Regions from separate parts of the Homo sapiens genome. Here region 1 is linked to region 2. Evidence: fine-mapped expression QTL. A gene starts in region 2. The other region holds a variant in brackets. All regions are shown on one strand. Distances are from middle to middle.

Region 1 (4,390 bases), 43 kb before region 2:
CTCAAGTGATCCACCCGCTTCAGCCTCCCAAAGTGTTTGGATTACAGACGTGAGCCACCGTGCCTGGCCCAAGTCAAAGGACCAGCCAGGTAAGGAGTTCGAGACCAGCCTAGCCAACATGGTGAAACCCTGCCTCTACTAAAAATACAAAAAATTAGCTGGGCATGATGGTGCATGCCTGTAGTCCCAGCTACTTGGGAGGCTGAAGCAGTAGAATTGCTTTAACCTGGGAGCCGGAGGTTGCAGTGAGCTGAGATCTTGCCACTGTAGTCCAGCCTAGGTGACAGAGCAAGACCTTGTCTCAAAAAAAAAAAAAAAAAATGAATTTGACTTGATGCATTCAGTTCATTCCATGCATATTTACTGAGTGTTTACCATGTGCCCAGCACTCTACAGATGTTAGATAAATATTAGTGAGCAAAACTGACATCTGTCTATGGTATGCATCCTCACTCTATATTCAGCTACTATTCTAAATTTATAGCCCAAGGTCATCAAAAAAACACTGAAATTTTTATAGCAATGTGAAACTTCCCAAATATAAGCTCTTAAAAAGTAAGGGATTGGCCGGGCGCGGTGGCTCATGCCTGTAATCCCAGCACTTTGGGAAGCCGAGGCAGGCGGATCACGAGGTCAGGAGATCCAGATCATCCTGGCTAATACGGTGAAACCCCATCTCTACTAAAAATACAAAAAATTAGCCAGGTATGGTGGCGGGCGCCTGTAGTCCCAGCTACTTGGGAGGCTGAGGCAGGAGAATTGCTTGAACCTGGGAGGCGGAGGTTGCAGTGAGCCAAGATCGCACCACTGCACTCCAGCCTAGGTGACAGAGTGAAACTCCAACTCAAAAAAAAAAAAAAGTAAGGTTACCAGGCCAGGCACTGTGGCTCATGCCTGTAATCCCAACACTTTGGGAGGCCAAGTCAGAAGGACTGCTTGAGCACAGGAGTTCAAGACCAGCCTGGGCAACAAAGTGAAACCCTGTCTCTACAAAAAATTCAAAAATTAGCCAAGCATGGTGGTGTGTGCCTGTGGTCCCAGTGACATGGGAGGCTGAGTCAGGAGAATTGCTTAAGCCCAGGAGGTCGAGGCTGCAGTGAGCTGTGTTCACACTGCTGCACTCCAGCCTGAGCCACAGAGTAAGACGCTGTGTCAAAAAAAAAAAAAAGAAAACAAATGTAAGGGGCCAAAGATAACTATTGGATGCTAGTGACGAAATAAATTTTAAAATAGGCATAATACAATGCTGCTCTGCTGTGACTTAAATTTCATTTTGTTATTTATTATTATTATTTGAGATGGAGTTTTGCTCTTGTTGCCCAGACTGGAGTACAATGGTGCAATCTTGGCTCAACTGTAACCTCTGCCTCCCAGGTTCAAGCAATTCTCCTGCTTCAGCCTCCTGAGTAGCTGGGATTACAGGCACGTGCCACCACGCCTGGCTAATTTTTTGTATTTTTAGTAGAGACGGGGTTTCAACATGTTGGTCAGGCTGGTCTTGAACTCCTGACCTCAGGTGATCCACCCACCTTGGTGTCCCAAAGTGCTGAGATTACAGCCATTGAGCCACTGCACCTGGTTGCTGTGCCTTAAATTTCATACAGTGTTGTATTAGTTTCCAATTGCTGCTGTAACAAATTACTATAAACTTGGTGACTTAAGTTTATTATCTTACAATTCTGGAGGTCAGAAATCCAAAATGAGTTTAACTGGGCTAAAATCAAGGTGTCATCAGGCTGTGTTTCTTCTGGTGCCTCTACAAGATGACCTGAAAGTTTCCTTGCATTTTCTAACTTCTGGAGGCTACTTGCATTCCTTGGCTCATGGCTCCGTTCCTCCTTCTTCAAGGTAAAACACCACTTTGTTAACAGTGATGATATTATGGAATGATTTTCATTTTCTTCTTTTAGCATTTTCTGATGGTGCATGTACTCCTTTTACAGCATGAAAAAAGAAAATAACAAGAAGCTTCTCTTCAGAAAATAGTTTAGAGTTCTGTGCCAGTGGACATAGTGCACATAGTACAGATCAGCAGGGATCAAGGCTACTGAGATCTACTTGGAACTAGATCATGACCAATTTTGTAGCCTAAGTAATAATCTTAGCTTGATCTGATGAGCAGTGAAGAACAATGGTGTTTTTTAAAGCATTAGGTTACCAGGTTTGTAATTTAAAAAGAAGCTGTAATGATAGACTGTATTAAAATAAGCTTTACTACTACTTTGTAATCACCCCATTTAGATTTGCGAAGTATAATTTAATTGTCTCTATTGTTAGTTTAGCCCATTTCTTTATACCA[T/C]CAGCACTGATATTCAACTTTTAATTCATTTTTCTTGGCAGCATTTTTATTTATTTATTTTTCGAGATGAGGTCTCACTGTGTTGCCCCGGCTGGTCTCGAACTGCGGGGCTCAAGCAATCCTCCTGTCTCAGGCTCTTGAGAAGCTGAGACTACAGGCATGCCCAGCTAATTCTCTTTTCTATGCTATGAAGATAAAACATTTATTTTAGACCCTCATGGATAAATGGCTGCATTATTCATTTTTCGCTTAAGACATAAACACAGATGACAAAAGATATCTGGTTGGTAATATAACACTGCTATTTCCAGTGAACCAGGTGTTTTTCAGTGGAAAATTGAGGTGGGAAAAATTTCAGCAAACTTTCATTATTTGTTAGTCCTCAATACACCATCATATGATATAGTATCTTCTTGACATTTGGCCAGGGTAAAACAGTAGTACTTCAGTAAGTTTGATTCTGAGGGACAGAATCTAGGGAACAGATTTTCAGAAACACTATCCTAGGGTCAGCCGAAGTTGCTGGGGAAGGAACTCATAGTGTGGGAATTCTGCCACCATACCTACTTTGACACATGGACTACCAAGGGAAAACTCCTTATCTATCTATTTTATAGTAAGTATTTATTAGGTTTTGTGTGAGATTAATTTGAAGGAAAAGACCTCGAGTTTAAAATTTTGGAACATACTATACTAGTCCTTTTTATTTTTTATTTTTTTGTAGAGACAAGGGTCTTGCCATGTTGACTAGGTTGGTCTCAAATTCCTGAGCCCAAGCCAACCACCCACCTCAGCCTCCCAAAGTGCTGGGATTACAAGTGTGACACTGTGCCTAGCCCTTACACTAGCCCATTTTTTTTTTAGGGTGGCATTAGAACCTAAAGCTCCCTACTCAGTTTATTATGAAATAATGGGTAGACTAGTTGTCTAGCTTAGCTCTTCATTTATCCCCTTTGTTTTGTAATGGATCCAGTTGGCTGGGCAGATAAGAATTTAAAAGTTGGTTTCAAGAGCACATTAGGTATTTCAAATATTTAGGGACTAAAGGAAATTAATCAGTGTTCCTTAATAATTATCAACCTGTCTGAAAAAAATGTTGTATTTCAGAAACGGCTTGCTTTGGTTGGGCTCAGTGACTCATGACTGTAATCCCAACACTTTGGGAGGCCAAGGTGGACAGATCATTTGAGGTCAAGAGTTCAAGACCAGCCTGGCCAACATGGTGAAACCCCATCTCTACTAAAAATGCAAAACTTAGTTGGGCATTGTGGCACGAACCTGTAATCCCAGCTACTCAGGAGGCTAAGCCAGGAGAATCGCTTGAACCTGGGAGGCAGAGGTTGCAGTGAACCGAGATTGTGCCATTGCACTCCAGTCTGGGTGACAGAGTGAGACTCCATCTCAAAAAAAAAAAAAAAAAAAAAGTGGCTTGCTTCTACTACTGAAAGCAATTTACCATCATGATATAATCCAACAAACACAAATTATTATAGTTACTTTAAACAAAATATATGGTTATAATTTCTGGCTTTTAAAATTACTCAAAACACTTTCTTGAATATAAATAACAAAGTACAAGCAAAACAACAACTGGATTTATTTCTCATTCCTGACAAAAGTAATCAAGTCTTCTTATCAAACGGTACACTGAAAGGAGAAAAGCAGATTATTTACTTTTCACTATATTAACAGAATTCTATTCTCTTGCTCGAGAGTGTATTTTGTAATAAGCTCTTTTTAGTATAAGAATTTTACTTTTTAAAAAACTGACCAGTGACTACCAAGCAATAGATGAGTTCTGTCTACTCAGCATTAACCTTCCAAAAAATTCATCTTAATTTTACTTTACTAAAACGTTCTAATAAGTCAATGAAAAATCAGGCCTACATTTTGTATGAAATATGAGACTGTCTGTAAGTTTCTATTTAACTGCATGAAAGAAACACCATTTTATTTTTTTTAAGTGGAATGGCATAACTAAAGTCAAGGTTGCTTTCACACAAAACACACATTGTATTAACGGAGCATATCAACATTGCTGCAACTCGAACTCTACCTCTTATTCAGGTCTAAGCTAATGAAACTAAATTT
Region 2 (4,390 bases):
ACCTCTCTTGGGGGCCTGCCCTTCCCACACCCCCTCTCCCAGCCAGGCTGTCTTGGACATTTCTGGGACTCCTCTGAGGGATCATGGTTCTTGCTCTGGGGTTTTCTTTTGTCATTTTAACACTGAGGCATCCCAGCCTCCCTTCCTGGAAGATGGAGTATTTGCACTGTTGCCTTTTCTTTTGTCCCTGTTTTTGTATAAAAATGACAATACTCTCCGTCGGACTGTATTTTAGCCCAAAAAACAAAACTAAACCCCTTTTTCTTTGATACTCCAGGTTCATAGAGCCAAGCCTATCAATTTTTTTCTTGTTCTTTGTTTTTTGGTTGGGGAAAGGGTTTTCTAAGAAATACTGAATTTTCCTTACCTAAAAGTAGTCCAGGTTAAACAAGTCAAACTTTAAATGTAATACCCATTGCTTTAAAATATTCTAGCAAAGAAAATAAGGTCTGGAAGATGGTGGTAGGGGATAGATGAAACAAGACTGAAAAGTGTTGACAATTTATGAAGTTCTGGAAATTCATTCTGCTCTTCTGTTTGACATTTTCCACAGTAAGGAGTTTTTAAAAATACTAGCTTTCTCTTATTTTTTACTCTAACAACTTCCTTTTGCTTGTCTTTGACAAGTCCTGGCTCAGGAGGAGAAAAGCTGCACAACCAGTCTTTGTGTATGTGTGTGCAAATCTCTGTGTGTTCACTTGTGAATACAGTTTCATTAGGGGAGGGTTCACCTTTGTTATGTATTATCAGTACATAATAAATATATATGTTTTCTTTTATTTTTTTAGAGACAGGGTTTCACTCTGTCACCCAGGCTGGAGTTCAGTGGTGGCAATCATAGCTTACCACAGCCTCTACCTTCTGGGCTGAAGCAATCGGCCTCCCAAGTAGCTGGGACTACAGGCCCACGCCATCACACCCAGCTTTATTTATTTTTTGTATAGACGGGGTCTCCCTATGTTGCCCAGGCTGGTCTGGAACTCTTGGGCTCCAGTGATCCTCTCACTTCAGCCTCCCAAAGCGCTGGGATTATAGGCATGAGCCACCACGCCAGGCCTATATTTCATTTTAAAACAACGAAGTTCTCCTTCCTCACATACCTCAAATTCGGGGGGTACCAAATCTCTGATATTATCCCAACGATTTTTTTATAACCAAGGTATCACAATTCCTTTCAGAAAGGGTTCTTTAGCCACTCACACCACGGGTTTCGGTGGCACAGCGCAGGGCAGCACAGACTTGTGCTACAGCTCTCGGCCCTACCCAGAGCAGGATGGCCCTAACCTAATTTTTTTGTTTGTTTGTTTGGAGATGGCGTCTCACTCTGTCGCCCAGGCTGCAGTGCGGTGGCACGATCTTGGCTCACTGCAACCTCCGCCTCCTGGGTTCAAGCGATTCTCCTGCCTCAGCCTCCTGAGTAGCTGGGATTACGGGCACCCGTCACCACACCCGGCTAATTTTTGTGTTTTTAGTAGAGACACAGTTTCACCATGTTGGCCAGGCTGGTCTTGAACTGCTGACCTCAGGTGATCCGCCCTACCTCGGCCTACTAAAGTGCTGGGATTACAGGCGGGAGCCACCGCGTCCGACCTAATTTTTTGTATTTTAGTAGAGACGGGATTTCACCGTGTTGCCTAGGTTGGTCTCGAACTCCTGACCTCAGGCAGTCCACCCGCCTCTGCCTGCCAAAGTGCTAGGATTACAAGAATGAGTCACTACGAATGAGTCACTGCGCCAGGCCCCTAGCCTCACTTACTTTGGGCCTCAGTTTCCACCGCCTGAAAAAAGAGCAGTTCGATTGCACCCACTTCCCCGGGCCCCGCCCAAACCATGGGCAGCCCCGCCCAAACCATGGGCAGCCCCGCCCAAACCATGGGCAGCCCCGCCCAAACCATGGGCAGCCCCGCCCAAACCATGGGCAGCCCCGCCCAAACCATGGGCAGCCCCGCCCAAACCATGGGCAGCCCCGCCCAAACCATGGGCAGCCCCGCCCAAACCATGGGCAGCCCCGCCCAAACCATGGGCAGCCCCGCCCAAACCATGGGCAGCCCCGCCCAAGGGCGGAGACTGGGCGGAGCGTCGCGCTCTCCTCCACCTCCTTCCGACTCTCGGAGGCCCCCCACCCAGTGCCCGCGGCGCATGTGCCAGGCACACCCCACCCCCAACCGGCCCTGGATTCCACTTCCGTTCCACCATCGCTGCTGGAGCAGCTGCCTTCAGGCCCTGCGCCGCCTCCGGAGTCCATGGCCGGCACGCGCTGGGTACTCGGGGCGCTGCTCCGGGGCTGCGGCTGTAACTGCAGCAGCTGCCGGCGCACCGGCGCCGCCTGCCTGCCCTTCTACTCCGCCGCTGGCTCTATCCCGTCGGGCGTCTCGGGCCGCCGCCGCCTGCTGCTGCTGCTCGGGGCCGCCGCGGCCGCTGCCTCCCAGACGCGTGGCCTCCAGACCGGGCCTGTGCCTCCCGGGAGGCTGGCGGGGCCTCCCGCTGTGGCCACCTCTGCCGCGGCCGCGGCCGCCGCGTCCTACTCTGCCCTCCGTGCCTCTCTGCTGCCGCAGTCGCTGGCGGCGGCGGCCGCCGTCCCGACGCGCAGCTACAGCCAGGTACGTGGGCGCCGTGAGGGACCTGGCGCGAGATCCCTCCCGGGCCGCGTGCACGCGCCCCCGCGCCCCTCCGTCCCTCCGTGTGCGCCTCGCGGGCACGCCCGGGGATCCGCGACACTCGCCGCACACCCGCCCCCGTCCACCCTGTGCTCCTATTGGGCCCTGGAACAAGGGAAGCTCTCCCAGGCGTCGGGTCTTCTGCTTGTTTTGTTCTCGCCTCGAGTCTCTGGTCGGTTGGGCAGTGTAAGTGTGGCTGGGGTGAATGTTGAGGCCTTGTTCCCCGCCTGGCCCATGGTAGGTTTCGTGAGGCTGCTGACGCCCCCACCTCGCATCTTCTTGCTTTCCGCCGGCTGGTTGTGAAGTTGCGAGGCCCGAGCCCGCCGGAGGGTTGGGAGTTTCCGTGCAGCCCGAGCGCTAGGCCTGGGCGGCCCTCGGCGCCTCTCGGTCGGCCGCTGCTGGGAAGGTGCGCGCACACAGTTGCGTGGGCTGGCTTGTAGGGAAGGAGCCTGTCCCCATCGCGCCGTTCCCTCTCCTGTCCCCAGGGAAAGACGAGCTGTCCCGGTTTACTGAAGGTCACCTCTGCAACTCCACTCATACAGAAGGTCTTTAAGGACTGTGTGTCGCCTCGTCTGGGAAAGCAGTTTGGAGATTTAGCTGTTGGGGGGAGGGGGTGAATGGGAGGGAGCGTTGAGGGTTGAGGACACAACTTGGGGTCCCAGGAATGAATTTGCAATGTTTTCCTTTCCATTTTTTCTTTATTTTTTTAGAAAAGTCGGTGTGTAGTTAGATTGCAAATATTTTGTGCTTTGTAGATGAACCTTTCTCTTCTTGGTACGTGGCATCTGGGAAGTGTCTGCACACTTTTTAACTACCCAGCCCCTGATTCCTTAGGTCATATTTATCTTAATTCAATTTGTGCTTCTCCTTTAACTTAGGGAGACTGGGAGGCTAATCAGCATGGCTGCTGTCTGCCAGTGGCTGAGCTAATTGATTTGAATCCTGGCCCAATACTTTACGCTGCCTTTTTCTGTAAAAGCTTGTGATGCTTATGGAATTATGGAAAAATGGGGAAAGTTGTCTACAAAAACCACAACAAAACCATCTCCAGTAAACCTTTGTGAGCTAGCTTCTCTCTTTTTTTTTCTATGAAATTGACTGCGGTGATATCTGTAGAGCATCTACTATGTGTTAGACACTGCTTACATTTATTCCTTAAAACTAAACATTAAGCCTTTTTTTTTTTTTTTTTTTGGAGACCGAGTCTCGCTCTGTCGCCCAGGCTGGAGTGCAGTGGAATGATCTCGGCTCACTGCAAGCTCCGCCTTCCGGGTTCACGCCATTCTCCTGCTTCAGCCTCCCGAGTAGCTGGGACTACAGGCGCCCGCCACTGCGCCCAGCTAATTTTTTGTATTTTTAGTAGAGACGGGGTTTCACCGTGGTCTCGATCTCCTGACCTCGTGATCCGCCCGCCTCTGCCTCCCAAAGTGCTGGGATTACAGGCGTGAGCCACCGCGCCCGGCCTAACATTAAGCCTTAATGAAAATTATAGATAGGGCTGGGCGCGGCACTTTGGGAGGCTGCGGCGGGTGGATCACCTGAGGTCAGGAGTTCGATAGCAGGCTAACCAACATGGTGAAACTCCGTGTCTACTAAAAAAATGCAAAAAAATTAGCCGGGCGGGGTGGCGGGCGCCTGTAATCCCAGCTACCCGGGAGGCTGAGGCAGGAGAATCCTTTGAACCCGGGGAGGTTGCAGTGAGCCGAGATTGTGCCATTATACTCTAGTCTGGG

Alleles and levels. Positions count from the first base shown, and alleles are read on the strand shown. Sizes are in standard deviations (SD) of each study's normalised expression.
In carriers of allele T in region 1, the expression in fetal neocortex of the gene that starts at base 2,181 in region 2 tends to be lower than with C alone (large effect, 1.0 SD a copy in Walker 2019).

What was found. PIP is the estimated chance that this variant, and not a neighbour inherited with it, causes the effect. A credible set is the group of variants that fine-mapping cannot tell apart.
Region 1: its variant is the best candidate, but not a certain one, in a credible set for the expression of GRSF1 in fetal neocortex (Walker 2019, PIP 0.54).

The regions. Positions count from the first base shown.
Region 1 is chr4:70,880,651-70,885,040 of GRCh38, reverse strand. No RefSeq gene overlaps it. Among named protein-coding and RNA genes, the nearest start is that of MOB1B, 20 kb to the left of the region's middle. The variant T/C (reference allele first, on the strand shown) is at 2,300.
Region 2 is chr4:70,837,681-70,842,070 of GRCh38, reverse strand. GRSF1 (G-rich RNA sequence binding factor 1) reads left to right here and starts at 2,181. Exons shown (of 10, transcript NM_002092.4): 1 at 2,181-2,600. The coding sequence starts at 2,244. LOC124900710 (a long non-coding RNA gene) reads right to left here and starts at 3,079. Exons shown (of 3, transcript XR_007058131.1): 1 at 2,926-3,079. RefSeq lists silencers at 1,914-2,163, 2,224-2,773 and enhancers at 2,170-2,823, 2,824-3,478.